Linked DNA regions of Homo sapiens: regions 1 and 3 are each linked to region 2. Evidence: fine-mapped expression QTL. A gene starts in region 2. Each other region holds a variant in brackets. All regions are shown on one strand. Distances are between the middles of the regions.

Region 1 (10,791 bases), 94 kb before region 2:
GTCTTTATGTCACCAAGTGAGTTTCCTCAGTCTGTGTGCACAGCCTCATACCTGGCTGGATAGAACCAGAGATGCAAAGTAGAAAAGCATAGGCTCTGGAGCTTCTATCCTCAAGAAGTTGCTCATCTATCCATCCATCCATCCACTCATCCATCCATCCATCCATCCATCCATCCATCCATCCATCCACCCATCCATCCACCCACTCATCCATCCATCCATCCCTCCATCCATCCATCCACCCACCCACTCATCCATCCATCCATCCATGCATTCATTCCAATACCTTCCAATACCCAAATTTTCCAACACACAATTTCAAGTGCTAACTCTGTGCCAGGACATGTGCAAATAACCAGGGAGAGAGATATGAATCAGGTGTGTTTGTGGGGGGTTGGGGGTGGGCATGAACACTGAGCACTCCAGGACTGTATGGGAAGAAGGGACAGGGCAAAATAGGAACCAAGGAAAATACAAGTGATTTAGCTAACTCCGATCATCGGTTTCCATGTGACAGGCATTATTTCACTTGGTTCCTTCAAAATCATTTTGAGGTTTGTAGATGACCATCTCCAAGTAACAGATGACAGTTTTGGGGCTTGGAGAAGTAACATGCAGATAATTTGCACAAGGTCTCACTCTTAGCAATACTAGAGGTGGGAGTCCAACCCGGGTCTGTCTGGCTCTGGGCTCACACCAGCTGTGGTTATTGGAGCCACTCCCATCTGTATCCCCATGAGGAGTCAGGGAAGGCTGCATGGAGGAGGCCCTGCGTTAGCTGAGGCTTGAATGATGAATGGGAGTTTATAGTAATATTTTTCAGATTTATTCTGTGTTTAATTTAGATAATTTCAATTACTATATTTTCAAATTCACTAATATTAAGCCAATTCAATGACATTTTCTTTTCATATGTTGTACTTTTATCTGTGGCAGTTTTATTTGTTTTTATTTTGACATCTTCCACTTCTGTTATGTTCATGTTTTTGAAAAATTATTCGGCCTATTCATAATAACTGTTTCAAAGTCCTTGTCTGCCAGTTCCATAATGAGCTGCATCATTTTGGGGTTCTATCTTTGACGGATTTTTCTCTTGTTATGAGTTACATTTTCTTCCTTCTTTCTACATGTAGTAATTTTTTTTTTTTTTTTAGATGGGGTCTCACTGTCATCCAGGTTGGAGTGCAGGGGCACGATTTCAGCTCACTGCAACCTCCACCTGCCAGGCCCAAGTGATCCTCCCACCTCAGCCTCCCGAGTTGCTGGGACTACAGGTGCACACCACCATGCCTAGCTAATTTTAAATTTTATTTTATTTTTTGCAGAGACAAGGTCTCACCATGTTGTGCAGGCTGGTCTCAGACTCCTGGGCTCAAGCAATCCTCCCGCCTCGGCCTTCCAAAGTGCTGGGATTACAGGTGTGAGCCATTGCACCTGGCCTACATCTGGTAATTTTTGATTGGATGCTGAGCATTGTTTATTTTATGTTGGTGACTGCTGCATTGTATTGTCTTTCTTCAAAAAGTGTTGGACTTTATTCTGATGAGTCATTAAGTTACTTGCAGATCAGTGACATAGTTTGGATATTTGTCCCCACCCAAGTCTCATATTGAAATGTAATCCCCAATCTTGGAGGTGGGGCCTGGTGGGAGGTGTTTGGATCATGGTCGGGGGGATACCTCCTGAATGGCTTGGACCATCCCCTTGGTGATGAGTGAGCTCTTGCTCTGAGTTCACAGGAGATCCAGTCATTTAAAAGAGTGTGGCACCAGCCAGGCATGGTGGCTCATGCCTGTAATCCCAGCACTTTGGGAGGCGGAGGCAGGCAGATCATCTGAGGCTAGGAGTTTGAGACCAGCCTGGCCAACATGGTGAAACCCCGTCTCTACTGAAAATAGAAATATTAGCCAGGTGTGGTGGTGTGCGCCTGTAATCCCAGCTACTTGGGAGGCTGAGGCAGGAGAATAGCTTGAACCAGGGAGGTGGATGTTGCAGTGAGCTGAGATCGTGCCACTGCACTCCAACCTGGCAACAGAGCGAGACTCCGTCTCAAAAATAATAATAAAAACATAAAAAAAAACTAAAATAAATGTGTGTGGCAGCTGCCTCTGCACTAGTGCTCTCTCTCTCTCTCTCTCTCTCTCTCTCTCACTTGTACCAGCTTTCACTGTGTGACGTGCCTTCTCTCTTCACCTTCTGCCATGATTGTAAGCTTCCTGAGGCCTCCCCAAGAAACGAAGCAGATGCCGGTGCCATGCTTCCTGTACAGCCTGCAGAGCTGTAAGCTAATTAAACCTCTTTTCTTTATAAATTACCCAGTCTAAGGCATTCATTGATTTACAGCAATATGAGAATGACCTAATATGGAAAATATCCTACTCTCAGTGCCAATTTTCTGTATTAGGTCATTTTCATGCTGTCATAAAGAAACACCCAGGACCAGGTAATTTATAAAGAAAAGAGGTTTAATTGGCTCACAGTTCTGCAGGCTGTACAGGAAGCATGGTGCTGGCATCTGCTCAGCTTTTGGGGAGGCCTCAGGAAGCTTCCAATTGTGGCAGAAGGTGAAGGGAGAGCAGGCACGTCACAATGAAAGCAGGAACGAGAGAAAGAGAGAGAGAGATCAGCGTAGGGGTAGGTACCACACACTTTTAAATGACCAGATCTCCTGTGAACTCAGAGTGAGAGCTCACTCATCCCCAAGGGGATGGCCCAAGCCATTCACGAGGGATCCCCCAACCATGATCCAAACACCTCCACCAGGCCCCACCCCCAACATCGGGGATTACATTTCAACATGAGATTTGGATGGGGACAAAAATCCAAACCATATCAATCAGTTTGATCTTTTAAGGTTTGTTTTTAAGCTTCCTTAGAGGACTTTTATTATTATTATTATTATTATTATTATTATTATTATTATTGAGATGGAGTCTTACTTTGTTGCCCAGGCTGGAGCGCAGTGGTGCAATCTCTGCTTACTGCAATCTCCGCCTCCTGGATTCATGCAATTCTCCTGCCTCAGTCTCCCAAATAGCTGGGATTAGAGGCACCTGCCACCACGCCTAGCTAATTTTTGTATTTTTAGTAGAGATGGGGTTTCACCACGTTGGCCAGGCTGGTCTCGAACTCCTGACCTCAAGTGATCCACCCGCCTTGACCTCTCAAAGTGCTGGGATTACAGGCATGAGCCACCATGCTGGCCTAGAGCAGTTTTAGAATGGCCCTCTCCTGGGCTGGTTTAGTGCTGGCACTAAGGTGTTTTTCTTCTTGGTTCTCTACTGAATGTGTGAGGTGTTCAGTAAGAATTCCTATTCTGGCTTGTTGGAACTTGAACATCTCCCAGACCTTGGTGAGTTCTGGAAATTGTTCAGATACATCTCTCTGTGTACTATTTACACAGTCTAGTGGAGCTCCACCCCACACATGCATGGTTTAGTGTGCAGCAGTACATGCAAGAGGATCTCTGTGTAGATTTGCTGGGTCTCTTTCTCTGTGCAGCTCTTTCTTCTCTTGTTTTCTACACCAAATTCCAGCTTCTTTTGCCTCTTCAGACTCAGACCCCTATCGCCCAACACAGCAAGACTGCCATGGTCATGTTGGAGTTCTTTTACCTACGTCACAGTCAAGAAAGTGGTAGAAAGGTAGAAAAAGGTAGGCACGGTGGTTTATGCTTGTAATTCCAGCACTTTGGGAGGCCGAGGTGGGAGGATCACCTGAGGTCAGGAGTTCATGACTAGCCTGACCAACATGAAGAAACCCCCGTCTCAACTAAAAATACAAAATTAGTTGGGTGTGGTGGCGAGTGCCTGTAATTCCAGTTACTCGGGAAGCTGAGGCTGGAGAATCACTTGAACCCGGGAGGCGGAGGTTGCGGTGAGCCGAGATCACGCCGCTGCACTCCAGCCTGGACAACAAGAGCGAAACTCCCTCTCAGAAAAAAAAAAAAAAAAAGAAAAAGAAAAGAAAGGTAGGATGATCATAGGACCTACCGTGTTTGTTTTCACTCTCTGAGCGATCATATAGAAGGACTCCTCTTTTCTAACAGCTGAAAACAGATTTTTAATATCGTTTGTCCAGTTTTATACTTCTAAAGTAGAAGGCTATACCTGGTCCTAGTTACTCCATTATGGCCAGAAGCAGAAGCCTCTTCTCCCTCTGCCCATGCCTGTCTTTTGCCCCTCCTCCTCCACTTGGAGCCATTTGGCCCATTTGGGTGTTGACTTTGATGCAAGTCAGGGGTGCCTGCATTGGCGTCTGTGCATGTGGTTGTGGGTGTGTGTGTTTGTATAGTGCCTGGGTATACGTGAGTCCTTAAGGTGGAAGTGGGGCATGGGAATGGGGTGCAGGGGAAGTGGGCTGTGGGAATGGGGTCCAGTGGAAGTGGGGTGTAGGAATGGGGTGCAGGGGAAGTGGGGGATGGGAATGGGGTGCAGGGGAAGTGGGGCATGGGAATGGGGT[G/A]CAGGGGAAGTAGAGGTGTGACGGAAGTGGAGAGGTGTGAAATAGCTTCTTGGGAAGGGCAGAGTTCCTCCTTGCTGCTGGGAAGTGTCATTTGGGGTTCTGGCAGCGTTAAGAGCCTCCCCACAACCCCCGCCTCCGATGGTAATCCTGAATTTAAGTGAGACCAGCTGGTGTGGTTTTGTTCAGCTGAGCATGGCCAGGGCAGGAAGACTGAGAGTTCACCATTTTCTGTACCGAGAAGCCCTGCTGCCTCCTCAGGAACTCCATTCCTATCCTGTCCTCCTTCCTGGCTCGTTCCCAGCATCCTCAAGGTCTTGTCAGCGCCCTCGTAGGGTGGTCAGGTCCCATCAGGGTTGTCTGAGCATGTGTGTGCAGGTATGTGTAGGTGTGTATGTGGGTGTGTGAGTGGGTGGAGGCTTGCGTGTTTCATGGTTTCAGAAGTGTTGAGAAAGAAGAAAAGAAGACCTCTGTCTTTTCTTCTGACATCACAAAGGGCAAGAAACTAAGAAATGCCTCAGGCTCCTGCAGAGAAGAAGGGATGGGCAGTAACAGCTTGGGGCAGGTGAGGAAGGATGGTGGAGTGTTTGGTGTTGAGTGAGGTGGCCCAAAGGGAGTCTGTGCATCCTCAAGACCTGGGAGGAGACAGGCTCCATCTGTGGTGGGTGGATCCACAAAGCTTATCTGCCAAAATCACTTGAAGAGCTTAACGCAGCCCACTTGGGCATCAACCCAGTAGCACCCAATACAAACACACAGAATCTACACCAGCACTGCGGGGAAGGGTGAGAGTGGCAGAGGAGGAGATCCACACTAGGTGGAGAAGGCGCAGGACCAGGCTCCCCGTACCCCCAACATGGCCTTCTCCCTCCTCATCGGCCATATCCCTGGGAAGACGAGAGGGGTGGATGGGCCTTATCCTGGCCCACATCTCCTTTCTCAAGACCTGGGGTAGGATGGCAATTCATGGATGGAGGAATAACAAGACCTGGTGAGATCAGCTTGGCCTGGCTCCCAGCTGGGCAGGAACACAGGACTCCAGGGCATGGAAGACCCCACCCCAGCCCATGGCCAGCATCCACCTGTGCCAGCACCTGCCTGTCCAGAGCTGACCAGGAAAATGGTGCTGGCCTGGGAGCTGCTCCTCATGGCCCTGCTGGCCCTGTGCTGGGGACTTAGCCTGGCAGGGGCAGAAGGTGAGTTCCGTGGCTCCCACCCCTTCCCTGCCCCCTCCTCACTGCTGCACCCTGGAGGAGGCCCGCACCATACCCCCAGGACCCTGCCCACCCACCCTCCTCCTGCTCCCCTTGCTTCGTCTCTTCCCCGGCCTTCCCTGGGCTTCCTTCACTTCCCTCCTCCTGCACATTCCTGCTCATCCTGTCCTGGAAAGTCCAGCTGAGTGTGTCTGGGTTCCCAGCCCATATTTCTCAGCACGGCACTCCAGGCCCCCAGGCTCCAGGGTGGCTGCTCTGACCGTTTCCCTTCTCCTCCTTCCCCAGCAGACACTCGCTGCACCTCAGTGGTTCCACCTCCAGACCTTTGCTCCAGCAGCGTCCTGGCTTGGGGTTCATCTCAAGGCTGGGTTGATGCCTGGGGGTCTGGGGGGCAGGGCCTGTCGCTGCTGCGTGTCTCCATTCTGCAGGGATTGCACGGTGCTTCTGTCAGGAGAGGAGGGTCCACAGGCAGAAGCTCACCCTGGCAGACCCCCTTCCCAACCCAGGGCACCTCTGCCCCAGATCAGCTGGGGGTGGTGGTGATAAGGGACCCTGCAGGGGAGAGAGGTGACCCCTTCCTGCCCCTCTTGTCAGAAACCGTCCTGCTGCAGACCCTGCGCTGCTACAGTGACTATACCAGCCACATCACCTGCGGGTGGGCAGACACCCAGGATGCCCAGCGGCTCGTCAACGTGACCCTCATTCGCCGGGTGAATGAGTCTGTGACGTTGGGTGCAGGGGCCACGGGTAGGGGCTACGGTGTCCCCTCTGCCTGGCGTGGGATGGTGGTGTAGAGAGGGATGTGTCAGGTCAGCCTCGGGGTGGGAGTAGACAGAGGACAGAGGAGGACGGAGGCCCTCCCGGGAGCTCCTGCTCAGCCAGGCACCTGCCAGGCACTACTGTCTGATCTGGGGTTTCTGGGGAGCACGTTCTACACTGATGTCGTTGAGGATGGTGCTGGTAACAATGGTGACAATCTTCTCTTATTTTGTCACAATTTAACACAGTTGCCCCACATGACCTATCTTAGTTCCTCCTCACTGCGAGGTGGGCAGGGCCAGGCCACGACGCCCAGTTCACAGATGGGGAAACTGAGGCCCTGGAGGTGAGGCGCCAGCCCTGGCCACAGATGGGGAGTGGCAGAACAGGCCGTGTGGACGTGTTTGGGAGGGGGCTCCATGCTCTCCCAGGCTCCTCCTCTGCATGTGGGCTGCCACCTCTCCCACCCGAGCTCTCCTGGGCACGAACCACACAGGAAGGGGACCGGCATTGCTCTGCGGTGTTGGCCAGGGTCTGAATCAGCCTTAAATGAAATAATTAAGCCACTGGAACCAGAGAGGCAGGTGACAACTGATTGGAGGTCTCCCCACCTAGAGGGGGAGGGGGCCCCAGCTCTGCCACCCCCCACCCCTCCACCACCTTCAGTTCTCCTGGGGAGCTCCATCAGACCTTCTCCATTCTCCTCAAATACCATCCTGCCCCTCCCTGTGATCTGCTTCCTGTTGCTCTGACATAACAGGGGACCAGGGAGAAGCTCCCCACCCACCCCACACTCACACTCCCCACCCCCTCTGCCCACCACTGGGGCCTGGGCCTGGGCCTGGTTCTGGGCTGGGGCTCCTGTCTAAGGCTAGAGACCCGATGCAGTCTGGCCCTGTTGCTCAGGAACATCACGGCCCCCAAGTCCCCACTCTTCCCTGTGTCACCCACCGTGCCCTCTCCCAGGATCTTTCCCAATCGCCTTGCAAACCTGCCCCAACCCCCTCACAGATGCCCACAGGAGTGCAGCGCCTGGGCATCTCCTGAGCTCACAACCCTGCGGTCCCCCTTTCTCTGCTTCCCTTGACAGCAGCAACCCCATAAAGAGTTGTCCACGCTCATCATGTCCAGTGTCTTTCCAGCCATTTCTTCCTGAGCCCACTTCCCCAGGATGTTGCCCCCATCAGGCCACCCAAACTGCTCTGGTTCAAGTCAGCAAACATCCCAGGAGCAGAATCTCATGGTTGGGCCTCCGCCTTCTTCCTACTTGACCAGGGGCAGCCCCTGACAAGGAGGACCACCGCGGCCTCCCTGCAGTTCCTCCTGCACCTGACTCTGCCCACAGCTCACCCAGCACCCCCAGGGCCCTGCCCATCCTCCTCTTTCTCCTTGTCTGCTGCCTCTTTGTTCTCTCGGCTGCCAAGGGTGAAACGCCCCAGGCCCAGTCCATGGACCTCCTCTCTGCTGTATCCACTCTGCAGAGACCACCTCCAGCCATGAGGGCATCTCCCAAAGGCGACCTTGAGCCCACACTTCCCCTAAGCTCCAGCCCTCCAGGCGCACTGGCGTCTCCACCTGTCACTTAGACAACAGGCATCTCCGACTACAAAGGTCCTCAACCAAAGTCCCCCTCTCACCCGAGTGGCTCTGCTGCCTCTGTCTTCCCCATCTCCCTTTGCTAAATGGGAGCTCCTAGTGGCTCAAACTAAACAACAGGGAGGATTTTGTTTTGTTTTTAAGTCTCTTTTGCCACCATTCCTTTCCGACTGCAGCATCCGATCCACCAAAGAATGCCGCTAACCTTATCTCAAGCAGAACGCAAATTCACCCACAACAGCCCCACTGCCCTGGTGCACACCACTTCCTGTCCCCTGGATATTCCAGAAGCTTCCTAACAGGGTTCCCTGCTTGCAACATTGCCACATTCCCACCTCAGTCTGTTCACAACCGAGGACCCTCAGGAATCCTTTCAAAGCATTCATCAAAATCTGCAACGCCTTTGCTCATGACTGTTTCCCACTCACTAGCAGTGAGATCCAATCCCGATCCAAGACCCGGAGGCTTCTTCAGTGAGCGGTGAGCACTCAATGAACCTTTGCAGAGTGAGTGATCCCCATGCACAGTGGGCTAAGCTGTGTCCTCTCCCAGCAGAGACCCTCCGGAGCCCATGTCCTGCTACCTCAGCGATGACATGCTCTGGTCAGCCTGCCCCTGTCCCCACTGTGTGCCCAGGAGATGTGTCATTCCCTACCAGAGTTTTGTCATCAGTGACATTGACTACTTCTCATTCCAGCCAGACGGGCCTCTGGGCACCTGGCTCACTGTCACTCTGACCCAGCATGGTGAGGGACAGGGGGCCTTGGCTGGGGCCTGGTCCCCTGTGTGAACCGCCCTCCTGTGGTTTCTATTTCTAGAAGGAAACAATGTTGCAACAAATATTTATGTACCTATAGTTTTGGGTATGGGTCCAAGTATTTCTAGAAGCATAATAGTAAAGTCAAAAGGTGTACGTTTTTCATTTTGCTAGATATTGTCCAAGAAACAACTTCCCACTAAAATGATCAAGAGAATGAGAAGTCAAGACAAAGAGTGGGAGAACATGTTTGCAAAAGACATAACTTTCGGATAAAGGACTGTTACCCAAATTATTCAAAGAATTCTTAAAACTCAACAATAAGGGCCGGGTGTGGTGGCTCATGCCTGTAATCCCAGCACTTTGGGAGGCTGAGATAGGAGGATCACCTGAGTCGAGACCCTATCTCTACAACAAAATTAAAAAAAAAAAAACAATGAGAAAATGAACAACCCAATTAAAGACCAGAGTAGACACTTCATCAAAGAAGACATACAGATGTGAAAAGAGCGTATGAAAAGGTGCTCAGCATCATGCATCATTAGGGAATTGCAAATTAAAACGACAAAAAGATACCGCTACACACCGGTTAGAATGGCCAAAATCCAGAACACGGACAGCACCAAATGCTGGTCAGGGTGTGGAGCAGCAAGAACTCTCATTCATTGCTGATGGGGATGCAAAATGGTACAGCCACCTTGGAAGACAATTTTGCAGTTTCTTATAAAAGTAAACATACTCTAACCATATGATCAGCAATTGTACTCCTTGGTATTTACTCCCATGAGTTGAAAACATATCCACATAAAAACCTGCACATAGATGCTTATAGCAACCTTAACCGACAAAACTTGGAAGCAAAAAAGATGTCCTTCAGTAGGAGAATGGATAAATAAATTATGATACACCCAGACAATGGAATACTATGTAGCACTGAAAAGAAATGAGCTATCAGCCATGAAAGGACACGGAGGAAACTTAGCTGGATATTACTAAATGAAAACAGTGACTCTGAATAGGCTACATACTGTATGATTTCAACTGCATGACATTCTGGAAAAGGCAAAACTATGGAGAGAGAAAAAGGATCAGTGGTTGCCAGAGGGTAGAGTGAGGGAGGGAAGAAAAAGTGGAGCACAGAGGGTTTTTAGGGCAGTGAAACTATTCTGTGCCATGTTATAATGCTGGATACCTGTCAAGATGTATTCATGTAAACTATAGCCCTTGAGTGATAATTATGTATCAACATAGGTTTATCAGTTGTAACAAATGTACCACTGTTGCCATGGATTGAATGTTTATATCCCTTCAAATTAGTGCGTTGAAATCCTTTTTGCTTTTTTTTTTAGTTTCTTTTTTTCTAAGTTCATGTCAGATAGGTAATATGCCCACATGGTAGCTGACAGAGCAGAAGCATCACCATCTTGGACAAGCACTGCCATTCTAAAGTTCCCCTTGATCAAAAATTGCCTAAATCCAAAGGTCATCAGCCTAATGACTAAGGTCAGCATGACCATAAGCCACAAATGACATCTCCGACCAGAAACATTTCAACCATAAGATAAATCCCTCCCTGACCAGAGACAAGCCAGCCCGGAGATAACTTCCCCCCCGGCAGAGAGATGTCAGCCCCAACATAACCTCCCCTTCTGCCAGAGACATTCCAACCCCACCATAAACTTCTCCCCCACACAGAAACATTCCAAGCCTGTGATAAAGCTCTCTCACTCTAAAACCAATATATACTCTTGTTGTTTATGAGCCACCGGTCTATGTTATTTTGGTTATAGCAGCCCAATGGGCTAAGACGATTGTAGTGCAGGCTGTTGATAGTTGCAATAGAGAATCCTCCTGACTGAAATTGGCCAGAAGCCCCTTTCAGGTTTATTCTCCAAAATAAACCTGTTTTTGACTGTTGAGCCCCTTTTCTGGCTTCTTTCCTCTTTCTTTAACTCTTACAGTAACAAGGTTTGAAGGTGGCACATCTCACACATGCATAGGAACACC
Region 2 (10,240 bases):
CTAGAGTGCTTGGGGTGGAAGCCATGGCGTGAGGCAGGGGGAGCCATGCAGGGAGGGCTTGGCAGCCTGTAACTGCCGGGAGTGGGGGCTATAAACTACATGAACAGTTTTCACTGGGGTTGAGATCAAATCACAGAACAGTGTCAGGGGCCCTGGAAGGAAGGAGAGTCAGCAGCTCTGCAGCAGCAGGACGGGAGTGGCCGCCTACCTGGGAGTGTGGGCAGGGTACAGGCCAGGGCACTGCTCTTGCTGTCTGGCCCGAAGCGCTCCTCCAGCTTGCTCTGCAAAGCATGGAACTGGCGGTAGCGGCGGTAGATGAGGTACTTGGATCCTCCTTTTGTCTTCACCTCGATGACGAAAACCTAAGGAGGACAGAGGTTGTGGGGAGGGCTCAGGGGCCAGGAGCACAAGCCAAAAAGAGGTGGAAGGGAAAAGGGGAGGAGGAGGAGGAGGAAGATGATGAGGATAAGGATGCAGAAGGGTCTCTGGAGAAGGAGACCCCTGTCAAGTCAAAAGGCTGGCGCCCCAGAAGCAGACGAGCTTTGCGAAAAAAAAAGAAAAGAAAAGAAAAAAAAAACTGGAAAAAGAGAGGAAGTGAGACCTAGTGTTAGAGGCAAGAGCCCTTGGAAATAGGCCAAACACACATTCAGGCCCAAGAAATGAGGAGCCATGCCTTGGAGGTCATGGTGCAGAGTGAACCTGCCCCTGGCTGTGCTGTGGGTGCAGGATGCCCCCTCCATCTGTGTCTGAATATGACAGGGGTGTTGTGGGGGCAACACTAAAGTCCCTCACCCCCGACTCTCCAGGTGGAGGTTCTGAGGTCAAAGGACGCGATCAGGATTTCTCAATCTTAGTATTATGCTGGGGCCGGACAGTTCTTTACTGGGGACAGGGCTGTCATGTGCACAGTGGGGTGTTTAGCAGCACCCTGGATTCTACCCACTAGATGTGGAGTAGACCTGCCCCAAGATGCAATAATCAGAATCTCCCAGGGTAATGTCAAATGGGCAAAATCGGTCCTGTTGAGAACCACTGAGATAGAAGTTAAGAGATCAGAGAATTGGAGGTTCAGAGGTCAGAGGGCAAGGTTCAGAGGTCAGCTGGGTGGAAGTTCAGAGGTTGTTGGGTGAAGGACTAGGAGTCTGTCTTACAAAGTGGCTGGTGAAGCCTCTCTTCTCCTCGATGTCAGCAATGTTGGCCGAGATGGCAACATCATCCGGAAGCTGTTCAAAGTCACTGTGCGAAGGAGGGGAAAAGAGATCCTGCTTATCACCCTGATGTGTTTTGTGGGCCCACCGGGTATGAGGTAGAGTGCAAAGCAAACTAATGTTGTGAAGCCAACATTCGTCTCTCAGCACCCCTTCCCAGGCCAGGTCCAGCCACTGACCCTGGGAATACGGAGATAACAAGACACAGCCCAGGCCTTGAGTGCAGGAATGGGAAGCTGGCGGCCATACTGAGTGCAGGAATGGGAAGCTGGTGGCCATATTGAGTGTAGGAATGGGAAGCTGGTGACCATATAGCAATAGCCAAATTATAGTCTAACACATTGCTGTCAATTGCACAGATTCACCTGGGAATAAGGCATCAAACATCTCCATACCAGGCCCTGTCCTAGGCCCTGGGTCACAGATGTAAACAAAGTCAACATGTGCCCTGGATGGAGCTGCTCAGTTCAGGGAACCGCAGGTTGCTGAGCATGGCTGGAGCACAGAGCAGGAGGTGGAACGTGATGAGAGACCAGTCGGAGAGACAGGCAGGGCCCGCTCACGAGGTGCCTTGATGCCTCGCAGAGGGACCTCGAGTTTTCCCTGGGGTGGTGGGGGCTGAGGAAGGAGTCAAGCAGGACAGACATTGGCAGATGCTCGAGGCATAGGCGCAGCACTGGGGACAAGAAGATCAAGCTCCCTTGGGAAGATTCCTAGCTGTGCTCCGCTCCTTCCCTCCTCTGTAAAATGGGGACAGGAGAAGTACTTATGTCTCCGGGTGGTCATGCAGTCCCATCTGTAACAAACACAGCCCTAAAATCTCCATGAGGGCAAGGACTCTGCTCACCCTACATCCCAGTGCCCAGAACAGAGCCCGGCATACAGTAGGTGCTCAGTACTGCTCAATACACGGCCACTACCGTCGTCTGCAATTATAGAGTTTTTTGATGGGCAGCATGAGAATGGCCTGGCTGCCTGTGGGGCGGGCAAGAAGAGCAGCAAACCCAACCGGAAGTCCCCTGGAATATCCGCTCCCTTGGGGACCTCACCCAGGCCCTACTGGGCCGGGATGTTCTGGCTCAAGACACACTCGCACAGTTCACAGACTTTGGAGCCTGGCCTGGGGGAGGTTTTGGAGCCTGCCCTGGGGGAGGCCGAGGTTGGAAGAACCCTTGGAGGGCAGCCAGGGCAGGTTTTCTGGCACCTGGCACATAGTAGGTGCTCAAAACATGTCTGTTGGAACCGAACTTGCCACCCCTAAGGCAGCCCTCCCCATCTTTGGATGTCTCACCTTGGGGTTCTAGAAAGTCCCCGCTGCGCGAACCTGCGCCCTCTCCTTGTACTCTCTGCTTTGACCTTAAGCAGAACAATCCAGGCTCGCTTTCAGATAAGACCTTCGAGGTACAGGGAGCCCCCATGCCCCTAGTACCTGGCTCAAGGCCTCATGAAAAGCAGTCCCTCCCCCTCTGAGGGCTAAGGCAGCTGAAAGGGGACAGGGAGTGGGGGAGGGAGTGCACAGTCCTGCTGGTCAGCTCTCCGTGTCATCCCCTGAACCCTGTACCCCAGAAAGCAGGAAGTGCCCAAGCCTCAAACAGCTGCTGCTTCCGGAAGATTCGAGTTTGCGTGCGGCTGGGTCCCCCAGGAGCATGTGAGGGGAGGAAGGAATTCAGGTCGGCCAGCCTTACCCAGCTCCTGCACCCCGCTCTGAGGCTCAGGAAGGCCACGTGGACTCCCCTGTAGGCATTTGCTTCTGCTGCCCTTGCCCCAACCCACGCTTCAGGTTCTACTTCCAGCCCCAGGCCCCAACATGGGCCTTCTGTTCCCCGCGTAGGCACACACCAGCCTGGCCTGTCTCTGGTGACCCCCTGAGTGGCCTCCACGTAGGTAACAGAGGTCACCTGCTGTTCCAATCCAGGGGGTGCAGGGGCCAGGCTTTGCGTCCTCAGGGCCCCCGCAGCTTAGAGCTCAGACCTGGCTACTGAGGAAAAATTCTGAAAATGCTTCCCAAGCGACGAGGCTAGATGCTGGTGAGGCCGTGCTCCAAGCCCCAACCTTGCCAGTCACTCTCTGTGACCCTGAGTAAGTCTCTTATCCTCCCTGGGCCTCAGATTTCCAATCTGTACAATGGCAAGGTTGGACTAGAAGAATCTAAGACCTTTTCCGTCTCAAAGATCCACCCATTCATTCATTCATTTATTCATTCATTCAGCAACATTTATTGAGCCCTTGGTCCTGGTGCTCAATAGGGATGAGCTACCTCCTAGTGATACAGCAGCGATCAAAACGGACACAGCCTCGTGGAGCTTGCTTCTCATGGGGGAGCCAACGTTCAAGAAAAAATAATAAATGAGCATATAATATTATTCCTGTAATATAAGAACCAGGCAGAAAAGGGAAATAGGGCAAAGGGTCAGACAGCAATGAGGTAGGGGCTGTCAGGAAGGCTTCTTGGAGGAGGTGACATTTGAGGCAAGCCCTGATTAGCGGAAGAACAAGCCAGATTCTGTGAATTCTGTTTGCGCAGAAGATGGAAAGTCATTGCTGATCACCATGTGAAGCAAAGGGCCCCAGCCTGGGACCCAGGACACCTGCATTCCTCTCCAGACACTGCCGGTCACTCGTTGTGTGACCGTGGGCAAGTCACTCCCACTCTTGGAGCCTCAGTGTTCTCATTTGTGTCTGAGGGTGGTGAGCCACAGCTCAAAGTTTCGTTAAAGCAGTTCTGAGAGGTTGCATTTCTGAGTATTTGGGTTCTGACTCAACCCCAGCCTCTCATGTTGATCAGGGACTGCAGAAGGACTGGCCTTTGTCCCTAAGGCCTATGAGGAGCAGTGAGAAGGCCCGGGGGCGGCCACACCCCGGCACTCACCTCTCGGCCCGCAGCTGCTGGGCCACAGCCATGGTGGGCGATGGTCCCAGGGAGCAGGTGGAGAGTCTCGCCCAGCCAGTCCCAGGCTGAGTTCACCTCTCACTTCCTCCAGCCACCCTGCGTCTCGTCTCAGCCTGTGGTCCTGGGAGTCCCCAGGAGCTGCCTTTGGGGAGGCTCAGGCCTGCTTCTCTCCAGTCTGGCAGAGGCTCCTCCTCCAGGCTCTCTGGGCCTAGCCTGTGGCCCACACTTCCTCTTACCTCACCTCCCAGCTGCACAGAAATTGAGGAAGTGGACCCTCGGGTGCCAGGTTTGCAGGAATCCACTTCCTTGATGTCAGTCCTTGGCGCCAAGCCTCAGTTGGGTATCAGAAGCCTTGCTCCATCAGAGATGGGGTCCCAGCCATCAGGGTGTCTTGTGACCTTGAGGAGTCACTTATCCTCTGGCCCATCAAGCCCCACCTTTATTCTCTTACTGCCAAGCCTTTGCCCAAACTCTTCCCCAGGCCTAGAATGCTGGCCTCCATTTTCCTGTGATCTCTTAGGCCCAGAGTAAATGCCACCTCCTCCAGGAAGCCCTCCTGGTTCCTCTGGCCTCTGTCTTCCTAGAGTGTGAAGTTTGGTTTGCGCGCCCTGGCACTCTGGGATATCCTTTCCTCATCCTTAGATCTCCATGCCCAGCCAATCCTCTTTCACAGGGCTGCCAATCAGAGTGAGTTTCACCCTCCCTGCTTAAACTCTCCTGCCCCATCACCCTGTGCTCAGGATAAAGTCCAGAGTCCTTGCCCTGCCTGCCTCCAATGCCCCTGAGGCCCTGCAGCCTTCCCCAGCCTCTGCTCCTGAGCTCCCTTTTTCTCACTGGCCTCCTTTCCGTTTCTAGAATGTTCTAAGACGTCCGCCCCAAGGCCTATGCTCATGGTGTTCCCTCTGCTGGAAAAAGCTCTTCACTGCCTCCTTTGCATCTCAGCTTAGAAGCTACATCTTTAGCGAGGCCTTCCCTGACCACACACCCTAAATTAAGGCCCTCCCTACTACATTCTCTCACAGGTCCCTGCACGTCTACTGCAGAGCACTCATAACTATTGTCATCTCACATTTGTTTGTTTATCTGTATGTTTAATGACTGCCTCCTTGGCTAGCAGCGTGCCTGGCACATTGCAAGTGCTCAACCAATATTCAGTGAATGAATGAAACGCTGCCAGTCAGTGACTGCAGCTCCTAACAGGTATGGGTATTTGATTCTGAAGGGACTTCTCTGAGAAGAGGTCCACAGGAGTCATTGGCACAGCCACACCCAGTAACTCCCTGCCAGCTACACACGCTCACACACTCGTATTCATACATGCAGAGCAGAAAGTTGTTTTAAACTACTTTAAACATACAAGTCCCAGCTAAAAAAAACAAGAAAGCATAATTTTTAGGTAGGATCAAAGAGAGGGGTCAGGAATCTATACCAGGGGGAGAGGAACGTGGCCAACAGCCCATGGGAAAACCAAGATTGGATATGCATTGTTGGGCTGAGATTTTAATGCCAAATCTGGGACTAGGTACAGGCCACAGGTCCTGCTGTTAGCAGAAAGTCAAATCTGAGTTCTCAGTGTAAAGTGGGTGTCAGAACTGATTATGGGAACAGAGTTTCTCAGCCATCAGCCTAGAGTCACGGCAGGAGCTGAGGTCCTCTCACAGTCCATGGGTGGAACAAGGGACGTGTGTACCAGATCAGCCTCAAGCCTGCCCTCTGCACTGGTGTAAGGCCCCGATATAAGCTACCCACGTGGTGCAGAAATCCTAAGCTGAGGCATTATATAAAAACAGCTTGGAGTCAGTGACTCTGCAGGGCCTACTCTGTCAACTCACAGACCAAAACTACAAATCGTGAGCTGTGAAAGACAGCTCAGAGCCTCCACATCATGAAGAATTCACACCCAAAGAACTAGAAATAATACAAACAATAAGTCTGATGAGTTGCTGGTGTCTCGGGGCTCCCAGGCTAGAGGATGAAATGAAACACAGAGCAGGGTTATTAGTGCAGGTGTCTGTAAGTACCAACAGGTGCAAGCACACAGCCATAACTGAGGGAAGAGGAGGACATTGGCCTACAGTTGGTCAGGAAGGACAGGAAGTGGCAAAACAATTTTAGCAAGCAAGCATGATACAGAATTTGTAGGTGATTGTGTAAACTGTGTGTGTAGTATATGCCTATAGTTGGAAACACATATTTGTGTATAAACACATACAGCTCGCATAGGCAAGTGTAAGTGCATTTGTGTTGTGTCTATAAAAGACCATATAATGTGTATAGTGGTGGCATTGTGGCTGTGAGAGAATGTGTTTAGATGTTTAGGTTGCAGTCGGTGACAAATGAGTATAAACACAAGTACATTTATAATAGGTGAACTCAGGCAAGATAACATGTCCTTTTTGAACCTTTCTTCTTCACCAATCTGTGAAACAGTCTTGCCTAATGGAGTTGTAGTAGGAATTAATAGAAAACTGTATAAAAGTGCCTAGACACATGGACATTTCTTATTCCTTTTTTAATCGTTTTCAGTGTGTATATCTGTATGTGTGTGTTTCAGGTGGGTTAAGCCCTCAAGTTTACCTTCCCAGGTATTTTCATGGCTTGCCCTCCAAACCCCGGCCCCCCCAACCCCCCAAGAAACCTCCTGTGGCCCTGACTCAGCCACTGGGAAGCCACCTCTGCACCTGGGGGACAAAGATGTCCAGGGAAGAGCCCGCGACGGGCCAGCTCTTCCCCTCCTCCCCTCTTTCTCTCCTTTTCTTCTGTCCCTGCCCGTGGTTCTGCTGAATACAGGTATTTCTCTGTCTCCTCATACACAGAACGCTGCTGCCAATTTTATGCCCGAGCTCTGATACAGTGTAATTTGAGGCCAGGCACTCTGTCAGCAATGGGCTCCTGTCCTGCCGCTGCAGCAATGCCTGTACCTTCTACTCCCACTCCAGAACCGGGCTCTTGCTGCTCCTGCTGCAGGGGGAGAATGAGGCAGAGGGATGACCTGGAAGAGGAGCCAAGCTCTTCACACGTTCCATTAAACAAGTATGGATGGAATCTTTTTTGGATAAGTGCAAAGAAATGCCTGAAGTGACCTCTCACTTATGGAGACCTGATTTTTGATAACCTCCACATCCCACAGCCTGTGAATAAACCAAAAAAAGAGAAAAGCCATTGAATGGTTAGAATTGATAGCTCAAAGTCTATGCATTGACACTGGCATATTTTATTCACAGAAGAAATATAAAAGGAGCCTGGTCCTCTCTTCCTGCCAACTCAAGAACTTGAAGCAGTGAGTTAGGGGAAGGAAGAAAATTACCAGGGGCAGCCAAATGCAAGCGACAGTTCAGTGACAGCCTGACAATGATAAAGACCATGGAATACCAAAAAATATATATGTTCTCAAGAACTCAAAAAACAAATACCAGAGGCCATTCAGAGAAGGGCATCTCTGCATAACACCACTTACTAATGCCCATTCATAATCACATCTCCAGGAAAAAGTCTAATACACCAAGACCATGCCTGGGGGATCCCCAGAGCCTGAATGGGGACTGGATGTGCGAATCACAAAAGTGCACAGCACTTTTCAGTCCTTCCTCATGCAGGTGCTGGGGTATACAAGATAAACCATAGCCCCCATTTTGGACATGAGGAAACTCTCCTTTGAGCAGCCAGCGGCTGGGGCTGAGAGCTCCAGCCATAGGAACTGGAACTCTGTGATAGGGAGGAGGTGAGCCTCTTCTACAGGACCAGGAGATACCCTTGAGAGCTCATTATAGGTACTCAGCAAATCCCCACTGCCTACATCAGCCACTCTCCAGGGTAAGAGAAGGAAAATCCCTGATTGGACAGTGTAAGATTCCTGGGGATCCCTCACACACTGAATTCCCCAATCTTGACCCACATGTGTCTCCCTTTATAATTTATGAGGGGAACTTCACTGGACCTCCTCCCTGAGCCATAAATAGCCATCCCTGGCATGCCACCCAGGCAGGGAGGGTGTAGACGTGGCCAATTAGACAGCAAACTCCCTGAAGGCAGAGGGTCTTCTCTTCTCTGAGAAGCCCTGGCACACGGCTGAGCTGGGTCTAAACCTCGTGTGCCCTCGCTGTGTCACGCATTAGTTGTGCAAACTCTCCGACCATTGTTCAGTTTTCTAAATGGAGATAATATTTGCCTCTACATTATTAATTGGAGAGAAAAATTGCAGGATTATTGTATTATTCATTTCCAAATGTGTTGAGAACCTACTATGTGCCAGACACCCACTGTGTGCTAGGCCCTAAATGAAACACAGACACTGTTCTTGAGACACGCACTTACTAGAGGTGTGTTAACTAAGGGAATGAATACCAGATGTTTAGGACAGTGGCTCGCGCATAGCAGGTGGTCAATAAATTCTAGACGTTAATGTTATTGACGATCATTCCTTGCTGTGGCTTGGTCCCTCCCTTTTCTGTCTCCCTCTGCTGCACAGCTTGGTCCTCTCTGTCATACAACTAACGTTACATTCTAACTTTTTCCCGCAATCTGTCATCCGCTCTCATCACGCGGGGGCACCGGGACGCGCACTTCCCTGGCGGAACCGGCTCTGCGCTTAATCTAAATGTTGACGGGAACAGACCGCCAGGGGGCGCCGCGATCAGCAGCCGAGTCCCCGCTCCGCAGCGCCACCTAGAGGAGGTTGAATGCTATAAGCCGCACTAGAAGGACCCGGCCAAGTCGAGAGTCAAGTTGCAGCTGGCCAGGCAGAGCGCGCAGCCTGCTGGCTCAGACAACCTCTCCAGACAGCCCTATCAGCCAGAATCTGAGCTGCACTCAGGGGAAGCTTCCCCCAGGGGCTAAGAATCCTGAATCTCCTCTCCACCATCATAAATACGGTAACAGCCAAGTCACTCTGAGAGTTGACTGTGTAACCACCCCTACACCGTGAAATTGCCAGGAGGAGCACGAGAGCTAGCATTTGCAAAGCCCTTAGTACAGTGCCTGGCCCACAGCCTGGCTTGGTCCATGTTGGCTCTGATTGTTGTTACCTAATCCTCACACCAACCCCCATAAAATAGTGGTATTCTTATCCCCACCGGGAGATAAGGAAACCCAGGCTTTACGGGATTAGGAAAATAAACCAAAGCGGCTTGCTTAATGACCGGCAGAGTAAGATTTGGACCTCACATCAGTCTGGCTTCAAGACCCACACTTAATAACTGCTGTACTGGCCCTCATTCATTCATTTATTCACTCCACAAGCATTCATCTAGTATCACTCTGCACCAGGTAGAAAGGATATTGAGATGAATTCAGCACAACTGCTGCCCTCAGGTAGCTCACACTGCTGTTGAGGTACATAAATAAACACACATGCACAACACAGGCACATATACACATGCACACGCAGGCACACATACACATGCACAAACATGTATAAACACATACACATGCATGCACACACAGGCATATATACACATGCACACGCAGGCACATATACACATACACATGTACATATACACATGCACACATAGGCATGTACACAGAGACACATACATATACACATGTACATGTACACCTGCACACACATGCATGTACACACAGGCATATAGAAATGCACATACATGCATGCACACACATGCAAATATACACGTGCATGCATACCCATGCTCAAACATGTACACACATACAGAATCAAGTACAATTTGGGGAAAACCAAGAGATACATGTTTCACATCCAGTTTCTCTGATTCCATCTCCAGTGCTGTCTTTGGTCCCCAGAGGTTATGGACACAAATGTCTACAGCGGCCTGGCAGGTAGCCTGGAGGTTTCAGATGGATCCGGGGGTGGAAAGGCAATGGCAGTAGGCTATAGTCTAGCGTCTGCCTTTCGTTAACCTTACATTCTGGGACAGAACTCCAAACTCTACATTTGAACCTGGCCTTCCAGTTTATCATGAAGGTACATTTATCAAAGAAGGATAGAACTTACTTTTTAGCAGTTGATTGGCTTGATTCCTAACTGTACATATTTAGAATCGTGGTACATGGGCCTCTGTCCCATTGCTCTAGGCCCTCCAAATGTCAGGGTCAGTGAGCAGGACAGATAGGCTTGTAAGTCATGGTGATTCTCAGGATTTCATTCAAAGAGGAAAGAGAAACCATT
Region 3 (10,791 bases), 24 kb before region 2:
GACTACAGGCGACTGCTGCCACGCCCGGCTAATTTTTTGTGTTTTTAGTAAAGACAAGGTTTCACCGTGTTAGCCAGGTCGATCTCCTGACCTCGTGGTCCACCCGCCGAACGAGGTCGATCTCCTGACGTCGTGGTTCACCCGCCTCGGCCTCCCAAAGTGCTGGGATTACAGACGTGAGCCACCGCGCCCGGCATGAATAGTACTTATACATGTTTAGATGCAAATCTTTCCTTGTATGTCTGGGTTAAACCTAATGTAGGCATTTATATTGTCTTTGTGTGTATGTGTGTTTCCTGCTGAATTTAGTTTGCTAAAGTCTCTATCTTCATATATGTGATTGATTTATAATTTTTACTACTTGTACTGCTTTTGCATATTTGGGAATTGCTGTGGTCTGAATGTGTCCCCTAAAATTAATGTGTTGGAAACTCAATTTCCAATGTCACAGTGTTGGAATGTGGAAGTTTTTGGGAGGTGTTTAATGGATTAATACTGTTATAAAAAGGCTTTGCAGGAATGGATTTACTCTTTTCCTTTTCTGCTCTTCTGCCATGTGAAGACATAGTGTTCCTCCCCTCTGGAGGATGCGGCGCTCAAGATGCCATGTTGGAAACAGAGAAACTGGACCCTGATCTACCGGTGCCTTGACCTTGGACTGCCCAGCCTCCAGACCTGTGTGAAATAAATTTATTTTCTTTATAAATTATCCAATCGGTGGTATTCTGCTATAGAAGCACAAAACAGACTAAGACAGGCAAGAAGATTATTCTGGCTGCATAGATGAGTTGGGAAATAGTCTATCTTCTATTTTCTGGAAGATTTTTTTGTAATGTTAGCATAATCTGCTGTTCTAACGTTTGGTAGAACTTGCCCATAAAACTGTATGTGCCTGGGGAGGCAACATTTCAACTTCAATGTATTTAATAGTTAAAGGAAAATTCAGTCTCTCTATTCTCTTGATTTTTTAAACCAAATTATACTATTCTAAGTATTTGTTTAACCTAAATTTTAAAATTTAGAATATAAAGCTTTTGACGAAATTCTCAGTGTATTTTAAACCTCTGTTTCATCTATAATTATGGTTCATTTACATTCCTAATACTATTTTTTCTTCTTTCTTTTTATCTTCATCAGTTTTACCATAGTCTTTCCTAAGAACCCAATTTTGGCTTTGTTGACCTTTTCTATTGTATTTTTTGTTGTTGGTTGTGGTGATCTTGAGTTCTGGCCTTATCTTTATGTCTTTACTTCTCTCCTTGAGCTAATTCTATTGTTTGTTTGTTTTTGTTTTTTTACTTCTGATTTTGGAAGTTTAGCTTGTTAATTTTCAGCTATTTTTCTTTTATGTACTTTCTGTATTGTTATATTTGACTATTAAAAGTGTTTTTTTAAGCCTGTATATGCAAAGTGACCTGCAAACATAGGAGCCAGGATACCAAAGAAGGAAGCAGACGAATCCAGCTTGTTATAGGATGGTTTTATTTGGGAACTTAGGGACTGAAGGATGGTCTTGGGCAGCTGTGAGACAGGTAGATCTCTACACTATTATCCCCCAGACCCAGGGATTATACACCATAAAGAAAGGGTAGCACGCTTAATTTGATCTAAAGGCAGGATTTATGGTAGGCATATGTTCTCACACAAAGAACAATAGATAAAATGGAAATCTTAGCGGCATTCCCAGAACCGGGGTTAATCAGAAGTCAACATGGTGGATTAGCTTCCAAGATGGAGTCACTTTAGCCTCCTCACTGTGACTCCTACACCTTTATTTCCCTCGCTGTTTATTTTGGGAAATGTCTCTCTGCTGCCTTAATGTGTCCCCTCAGGAGAATGCTGCAGATGCTGGAGCAGTGAGCAGCAGCCTCCCTGTCCTGGGGTTATTGTTCTCACTTACTTTCTTGTAACACTCTAGTGCAGTGAAAACTACCATCATCTCTTGAACAAACTTTCTCTTTATTTCATGGGCTACAAGGAAGAGATAAAATGCTGTATCACTACACACCACAGGTGTTAGGCCTTATACCTGACGACGCATGATGTTCTGTGGAGGTGGTTTTACCAGACGTAAACAGGATGCTTCAGTTTGAGAAACCTCACCCTTGTTATCTGTTGATTTTGATTCACTCCCTTAGCTTGTCTAGGTCTCTAAAACTGAAGGACATGAAAGACAAATGAATCTGCACAAAACGTGCAAGGATACTTTAAAAAGAAAAAGAAAAAAAAGTGTTTTTTTAAAGTCCTCACATGGCCAAGCATGGTGGTTCACAACTGTAATCCCAGCAGTTTGGGAGGCCGAGGTGGGTGGATCACTTGAGGTCAGGAGTTCAAGACCAGCCTGACCAACATGGTGAAACCCCATCTCCACTGAAAATACAAAAATTAGCTGGGTGTGGTAGTGCATCCCTATAATCCCAGCTACTTGGGAGGCTGAGGCAGGAGAATCGCTTGAACGCGGGAGGCAGAAGTTGCAGTGAGCCGAGATTGTGCCACTGCACTCCAGCCTAGGCGACAGAGCAAGACTCCAACTCAAAAAAACCCCCAAAAACAAACAAACAAAAAATAAAATCCTCACATGTTTAAAAATTTTAAAACACACTTCTAAGTAACTGATAGCTCAGATAATATCCTAATTGAATTTAAATAGTAGTTACAATCAAATGACAATAGGGCATATGAAAACTTGTGGCATATACAAAGTGATATTTTTTAGAAATTTGAACCATTTGACCCTCCTTGTGCCACTGAGCCAATAGGTGGAGAAAGAGGTGGAGAAAGGTGGATCATCTGAGGTCAGGAGTTCAAGACCAGCCTGGCCAACATGGTGAAACCCCGTTTCCACTAAAAATACAACAAAAAAAAAATTAGCTGGACTTGGTGCTGGGTGTCTGTAATCCCAGCTACTTGGGAGGCTGAGGCAGAAGAATCACTTGAACCCGGGAGGCAGAGATTGCAGTGAGCTGAAATTGTGCCACTGCACTCAAGCCTGGGCAACAAGAGCAAAACTCCATCTCAAAAAAAAAAAAAAAAAAAAAAAAAAAAAAGAAAAAAAAAAGAAAAGAAAAGAAAAAAGAAAGGAGGTAGACAGGACTATGTGTGGTCCCACCGTGATTCACATAGGTGCCTCTCAGTATTTTCTTACCCAATAGTCCTGGTCAATGGAATACTGAGGCAATCTGATAAAGACAAGTCTAACGAGAACTCAGATCCCATAGGAATGAAGTCTTGAGTTGCTCCACCACATAAAGACCCTTATTTGACCCATGTACTGGCAGAGGAAAGAGGAACATGAAATGAACACTGGGAACAGGTAGCTCAAAATATCAGCTTTGGACCTGTGACCAGCTGCGGATGCAGGGGCTCTAACAGCCATGCGTATATTACTTCATTCATCATGCCTCCACTGCTTTATATAAAGAATACCCGTAGCAGCTCACACTTTGGGTTTCAGGTGGGAGTATGTCTGTATGGATATGATCCTAAAATGCCAAAATAGCTGATGGGAATTCCTGTGTTCCCTGTCTTGGGAACATGGAGTTTTCACTTGGCTGAAGGATAAGCGTATATAATGAGGGGCAAAACGGGTGGAGGATGCCAGATATCTTCATTTTTCCCCACTCACATCTACACTGTGCTCTCTTCCGCCCTGCTGTCTACCTTGGGAAGCTAACCTGTGTGGATTACAACAGCCTGGCCCTAGGGCTTCCAGTTTTGTTTGGCAGTAGGGAACCCCTCCCCTGAGATCAGAATGGGGAAGGAGAGGAGGGCGGGGTATTTGTTCCTCTGATCGCCTCCCAGCGGGGTTACTTTGGGTCAATCTCGCCCACCAGTCAAAGATCACCAGTCCTTCTAAGGAGGCCATGTCTACACAATCCCCTCCTTCCAGGTTTTGTAGACACTCCTTCCCTTTATTCCTTTGGGCTCAGGAATGTAACAGGTCTGAGGTCCTATCCCTGGGATATTGAACTATTCCTTGAGGTTTTCCTGTGTGTTGTCTACGTCTTTGTAAACAGTCCCTTTATTAAACACACCTTGAATTATCTTAACTTGAGGATGCCAGATATTCCCTCCTGGACATCTCATGATGTACCAGGAACAGGGTCCCCAAACCAAGAAGCACACTGCAATCAATTGCCTTTTTAATGACTTCTTCCAGCATCCTATTCCATGAGATGCCTACTTGAGAAGCCTGTTTCTAATTGGGTAATTTTCCATTATCTCCTGCTCACCATTAATTGAGAATTGCTCAAGGCCCATAATTAACTAATTAAATATTCACCATATTTTTAATGGGAATGTTTTACTCTGTGTTAATTGTGTAGTCATTATCATCACAGTAACCCTTATCTGTATTTGTTAGCAACTTCCCCACTATGCAAAGAATGAACAATAGCTGAATCACGGTGTTTGACATTTCTTTGGTATCAGTTTTTCTCAGTTATTTCCACTTTTAGCTGATAAACTTTTTGTGCAAGAATGAAGTCTTACATCATCATTTTCTCATAAGTCACAAAAATTCTCCAAAACCTTTATGTACAGACTTGTTTGCAAGCATCAGTATAGTCAGAATCTGTGTCAAATGTGTTAATGTATAATCAGCATCATTCCAAACACTGTCAATTGTGTACATGACATTCTTAACACTGGACTCTTTCGGGAGCCATGGAATCTTAGGTTCTGTGATGGTAGCAAGAGCACAGCCTGAAAAAAAGTGTTTACCCTTCCTCTAAACTTCTTTGCACTTAGGCTAAAATGCACATATCCCCCAAGGGGAAATAAAAGCTGAAACTGCTTTTCCACAAGATGTTTAGGGAGGGAGTATGCATAGCAGTTTCCTAGGAATGATAACATCTAACAATTGTTTTTTCCAAGCTAGAATCCCTGCAATGAGTTTGTACCGCTGGTATAAAAATGTTATTAATCAGTCAGAAAATATTTCTCTGGTTACTCATGGTGTCTAGTATGTGTACTGACAGACGGTAAATTGGATACATCCTACAAAGATGGTGGATGTAGGCTTTTTCCAGTTACTGTCAAATGTATCTGGTGTGTTCCTGTAGCACATGGTACGCCAAGAACAGTCAACAGGGTGTAAGCAATTGGTGGGTCCTCATCAGCCATTCTGCAGAGCAGACTGAAGCCCACTGCCAATTGATCAGAGCCAAGGTTTTCATCAGATACCGTTACTTAACAAATCCACCCATGCAATTTTCATCAGCTTCATTATCAGCAAAAGCTTTTCACTTCTGATTTTGACGGGTTCTTACTTGAGCTGTACATAAAATCAAAATTCATCCCCCCAAAAGCATCAAAAAATAAGGGAATAGCAGAGACACATATGGCTGGTAAGCGTTAACTATTCAGCTCAGGGTCAAGGAGTGCTACCAAGTGAGTTTGAGTACCAAGTTTACACAAAAGTAGATTGTGAATCTGTATAGACGTCCCAGCTGTCTTCTGGTTAGTGGTTTCCAGGAATATCTTTTTTCATACTTTTTTTTTAATTTCAATGTTTCCATGACGTTTTACCTTATGTGTGTCTCTTGTACATATGACACTTACATAGATTTAGATTTTTAAAAATTCAATCTGACAGTCTTTTTTTTTTTTTTTTTGACGGAGTCTCACTCTCTCGCTTAGGTTGGAGTGCAGTGGTGCGATCTCGGCTCACTGTAACCTCCGCCTCCCGAGTTCAAGCGATTCCCCTGCCTCAGCCTCCTGAGTAGCTGGGATTACAGGTGTGCACCACCACGCCCGGCTAATTTTTTAGTGTTTTTAGTAGAGACGGCATTTCACCATATTGGCCAGGCTGGTCTCAAACTCCTGACCTCGTGATCTGCCAGCCTCTACCTCCCAAAGTGCTGGGGTTACAGGCATGAGCCGCTGTGCCCGGCCCTGACAGTCTTTTAACTCATGCATGGAATCCATCTATGTTTATGGTATCAGAATTATTGATAAATTTGGACTTTTTACCAACTCACCCATTGAATAATATATATGTGTGTATACACACACACACACGCACACACATAGATGCGTTCATACCTTCTTTCTTTTACACATCTGAAAATTTGCCATCTCATTCTTTTTTGCTTGTTTATCTTTATGGTTACATTCTTTATTTCTTTAAATATTTCAGTCACATAATTCGGTAATCGGTAGTCCCTGGGGCTCTAAAGCTATTGTTTATTGCCTCTGCTCATTCTCACTCACAGAGATTTGGTGATCTTTGACTATGAGCCTTTTGCTTGATATTAATCAGGGTAACTCCTGCCAGCCTAAACTGGAAATACTTTACTCCAGAGGAGACCCTCTTCCGCTTCTGCTTGAAGCCAGGAATGCCACTCTCTCCAGATCACCTCAGCTCTCACATCTAGGGCCTTGGCCTGGCACGGAAGCCCCTGGCGCAGCCTCCCTATCTCATGGCCTCCCCATGGCTCTGCCTTCTGGACTGCCTCTGCACTCCAGAAAACAACACCCCAACTGCTCTGTATTCTGGTTTCAGCTCCTATCATAGTTTTTTTGGTGGGGAGTGGAAGAATCATTGGAGAACTCCTTTGCTTCTTGTGAGGCTCATAATTCCTCAAAGCCTGTGTCCTAGCTGAGGTCTGGTTGTTTTGTGGCAGAAAATTTTCTTGGTGAATGTGGTCAGGCAACAAACTAGAAGCCAAATAACTGGGTTTGGGAGATCACACCTTGCAAGGTCTTTTAAAATTTTTCTTAAATGGATATTTTCTAGTGTACTGTTGTGGTTCAAATTGTATTCTCCCCCAAAAGATATGTTGAATTTCTAACCCCAGTATCTCAGAATGCAGTGATCTTACATGAGATAGAGTCTTAGCTGGGTGCAGTGGCTCACACCTATAATCCCAGCACTTTGGGAGGCTGGGGCATGTGGATCACCTGAGGTCGGGAGTTGAAGACCAGCCTGACCAACATGGAGAAACCCCATCTCTACTAAAAATACAAAATTAACCAGGCGTGGTGGTGCACGCCTGTAATCCCAGCTACTCAGGAGGCTGAGGCAGGGGAATTGCTGGAACCCAGGAGGCAGAGGTTGCAGTGAGCTGAGATCACACCATTGCACTCCAGTCTGGGTAACAAGAGTGAAACGCCATCTCAAAAAAAAAAAAAAAAA[AAT/T]AGAGTCTTTACAGAGCTAATCAAGTTAAAATGAAGCCATTAGAGTGAACTTCCTTTAATATTTTTTTGTAATGGCAAGTCTGCTTAACAATGAATATTCTCAGTTTTTGCTTATTTTGGAATGTTTTAATTTCACCTTCATTTTTGAGTGGTAGATTTGTTTTATGTAAGATTCTTGGTTGACAGGAAATCAGCTGTTAGTCTTAATGTAGTTCCCTTTTATGCGGTGAGTCATTTTTCTCTTTCTGCTTTCAAGATTTTCTCTTTATGTCTGGCTTTCAACATTTTGACTATGATGTGTTTAAGTGTGGCTTTCTTTGTATTTTACTACTTGGAGTTTGTTGAGCTTTTTGGATATGTAGATTGGTGGTTTTTTAAAAAATAAAAATTGGAAAGTTTCCAATCATTATTTCTTTTCATCCTTTTTCTGTCTCCTTCTCTCCTCTCTTTCTGGTAATCTCATTATGCATATGTTGGTACACTTCATGGGTCCCACATTTCTCTGATGCTCTGCTCATTTTTCTTCACTCCTTTTTCTTTATTTCTTTCTTAAGATTGCATCATCTCTATTGATCTATCTCTCAGTTTGCTTATACTTTCTCTGCTAACATTCTTTTGCCAACTCAAATCTACTGCTGAGCCTTTCTAGTGGACTTTTCATTTCAGTTATTGTTCTTTTCAACTCTAGAATTTCAATTTGGTTCTCTTTTAAAAAATTATTTATGTCTTTGTATTGATATTCTCTATTTGAAGAGTCATTGTTACAATACTTTCTTTTAATTCTTTAAACATGGTTTCCTTTAGTTATTTAAACATATTCCTAATATAAAGTCATTGTTTGCTAAGTCCAGCATCTGAATCCTTCCCTCAAAGGCAATTTTTTTAGTTTCCTTTGCCTGCTTTTATTTGCCTCCTGTGTATGGATTACACTTTGCTGTGTCTTTGCAATTCTTATAATTTTTTGTTGGGAACTATATTTGCCTGTTCTTGCACTGCTATAAAGAAATACCAGCTGGGTGCAGTGGTTCATGACTGTAATCTCAGCACTCTGGGAAGCCGAGGCAGGTGGATCACCTGAGGTCAGGAGTTCGCGACTAGCCTGGCCAGCATGGCAAAACCCCATCTCTACTGAAAGTACAAAAATTAGCTGGGCAAGGTTGGGGGTGCCTGTAATCCCAGCTACGCAGGAGGCTGAGGCAGGGGAATCACTTGAACCTGGGAGGCAGAGGTTGCAGTGAGCCGAGATCATGCCACTGCACTCCAGCCTGGACAACAAGAGCAAGACTCAGTCTCAAAACAACAACAACAACAACAACAACAACAAAAAACAAACAAAAAAACAAAAAAACACCTGAGACTGCATAATTTATAAGGAAAAGAGGTTTAGTTAGCTCTTGGTTCTACAGGCTATACAAGAAGCCTAGTGGCTTCTGCTTCTGAGGAGGCCTCAGGAAACCTTACAATGATGGTGGAAGATGAAGGGGAAGCGGGCAAGTTTTAAATGGCAAGAGCAGGGGAAGAGAGAGAGAAAGAGGAGGTGCCACATACTTTTAAATGGCCAGATCTCACTCACCATCGCAAGAACAGCACGGAGGGAATGGCACTAAACTATTTATGAGAATCCACCCCCATGATCCAACCACCTCCCATAAGGGTCCACTTTCAACCTGGGGATTATAATTAGACATTAGATTTGGGCAGGGACACAGATCCAAACCATATCAGGAACTGAACATTTTAGATTATATTTTGAAGCAACTCTAGATGCTGCTCTCCTATTCCCTCTAGGGCTTAATGTTTTTGTTATTTGGTTTGTTATCTGTTTACTTGTTTAGTGGCTTCACTGAACTAATTTTGTGAGGGCCGTTTCCCCTACAATGTGTAGCTTATGATGCCCCCGCTCGTATTTTTTCCTCTTGTGTTTTTTTTTTTTTTTTTCTCTCTTATCCTGGTTTCCTAGAGGTTGCACCTGGGTCTGCATAAACCACCTATTGGTGAAAAGTTGTGCTGAAGCCCCCTCAATTAGATTGGTTTCACCCCTTACTTTTGGCCGTGAATGTGGTTTGAAGACATCTTTTACAGTACAGGGTTCAAACTTGCCCCATGTTCAGTCAGAAACTGATAGCCCAGCGTTTCTTTCTCCAGTCACTCCTGAGAGTGATCGGCCTGGGCGTGCACGCAGTCTTCCAGACCACCAGGAAATGAGTGTAATTTTATTTTTAAGCCTGCCTTCCTAAGAATCCCCTCTGTGTCAGATTAGCTTATTGTTCAGCCATTGCTTGGTCAGAGGTTATGCTTCAGCCTCTTGAGCTAGCGTGTTTTGCTGATGGATCTGTATGTGGTTTAGGGAATGATTTCAAGTCTGCCACACTTTCCACTCTGATTTCTGCTGTGTGGGTGCAGCCTGGCACGAGAGCACAATCTTTTGAGTCCTCAGGGATGACTGTAGTCCTAGAACCACTATTCTTCGTTATTTCTTTATCTGGTTCTCTGTTAAATTTCTGGCCTTACATTTCTCTTGATGGCATTAGTATCTAGCCCCTCCTTAATTGCCGGCCACCAAGATTTCCATTATTTTTGCCAACTTCTTCGGCATGCTTCCCAAATAAAGTTAGTCCCCTCAGGAAAAGCTGTGGAATTCTCCATCCCTAAGGCCTGACTCTCTCCCTGGGCAGAACCTCTGCACCACTGCATCAGAGCTGGGGATGGGGAAATCAGCCTGCTTCTCCAGGAGTGATGTCCTGTTCTGTGAGTGGGCACTGGAGTGGAGGACGGTATCCCTTGATCTCAGATTGCCCCTCTCAGCATGGAACCCCTGCTCTACCAGAGGGTTAAGGTTCAGCATTCTTAGCCTGCTACGCCTATTGCAGAGCCCTTGCCCTAGGAGGGGGAGCTGAGTGGGTAAAGGGAGTGTCATGGGTTGAAGTGTTATGTTGGAATTAAAAATGACATGTTGAAGTCCTAACCCCTAGTACTCCAGAATGTGACCTTATTTGGAAAGAGGAGGTTTATAGAGGTAATCAAGGTAAAAGAAGATCACTAGGATGGGCCCTAGTCCAATATGACTTGTGTCCTTATACAAGGGGGAATTTGGATGCAGAGACAGACATGCACAGAGGGAAGACACTGTAAATACACACAGGTAGAATGCCATGTGAAGACAGAGTGATCCATCAACAAGCTAAGGAGCACCAAACATTGCCGGCAAACCACCAGAAGCTAAGAAAAGGCAAGGAAGGATTTCCCTACATATTTCACAGGGAGCATGGCCCTGTGGACACCTAGCATTCAGAACTGTGAGACAATCGATTTCTGTTGCTTAAGCTCAATTTCCTGGTACTTTGTATGGGAACTGCAGGAAACTCAGTCCTCTCTGCTGTAATGACCTGGAATAGTGCTTCTACAACACAGGGCTGCAGAGAGAAGAGATTCTGGCAGCCTGTTCCTCCTGGGGTGAAACTGTGGAAGGTTAGGAGCTGAGGGATGAGGGAGCCCATCTTCCTGGCTGCATCCATCCAGAGTGGAGGATCTGGAGTGGAATTTCCATCACATGGAGCTGGGGGTGGGGGGACGGGAACACGATGTGTCTCCAATGCCACCGACTCACTGTTCTTACTGAGACGTAATGATCTACTTGAACGACTGTCTCTC

Evidence for each region.
Region 1: its variant is fine-mapped to the expression of NCF4 in whole blood (TOPMed, PIP 0.94).
Region 3: its variant is fine-mapped to the expression of NCF4 in whole blood (INTERVAL, PIP 0.98).

What each region holds. Positions count from the first base shown.
Region 1 is chr22:36,948,511-36,959,301 of GRCh38, reverse strand. LOC124900478 (a long non-coding RNA gene) reads left to right here and starts at 4,642. Exons shown (of 3, transcript XR_007068091.1): 1 at 4,642-5,654; 2 at 8,204-8,507; 3 at 8,959-10,791. It also overlaps the pseudogene LOC124905162 and the pseudogene CSF2RBP1. The variant G/A (reference allele first, on the strand shown) is at 4,462.
Region 2 is chr22:36,855,041-36,865,280 of GRCh38, reverse strand. NCF4 (neutrophil cytosolic factor 4) reads right to left here and starts at 4,275. Exons shown (of 10, transcript NM_000631.5): 1 at 4,078-4,275; 2 at 1,152-1,236; 3 at 209-362. The coding sequence starts at 4,109. The region is part of intron 1 of NCF4-AS1 (NCF4 antisense RNA 1); the gene reads left to right.
Region 3 is chr22:36,878,641-36,889,431 of GRCh38, reverse strand. LOC105373022 (a long non-coding RNA gene) reads left to right here and starts at 128. Exons shown (of 2, transcript XR_938229.2): 1 at 128-236; 2 at 563-1,404. RefSeq lists a silencer at 10,270-10,462. The variant AAT/T (reference allele first, on the strand shown) is at 7,139.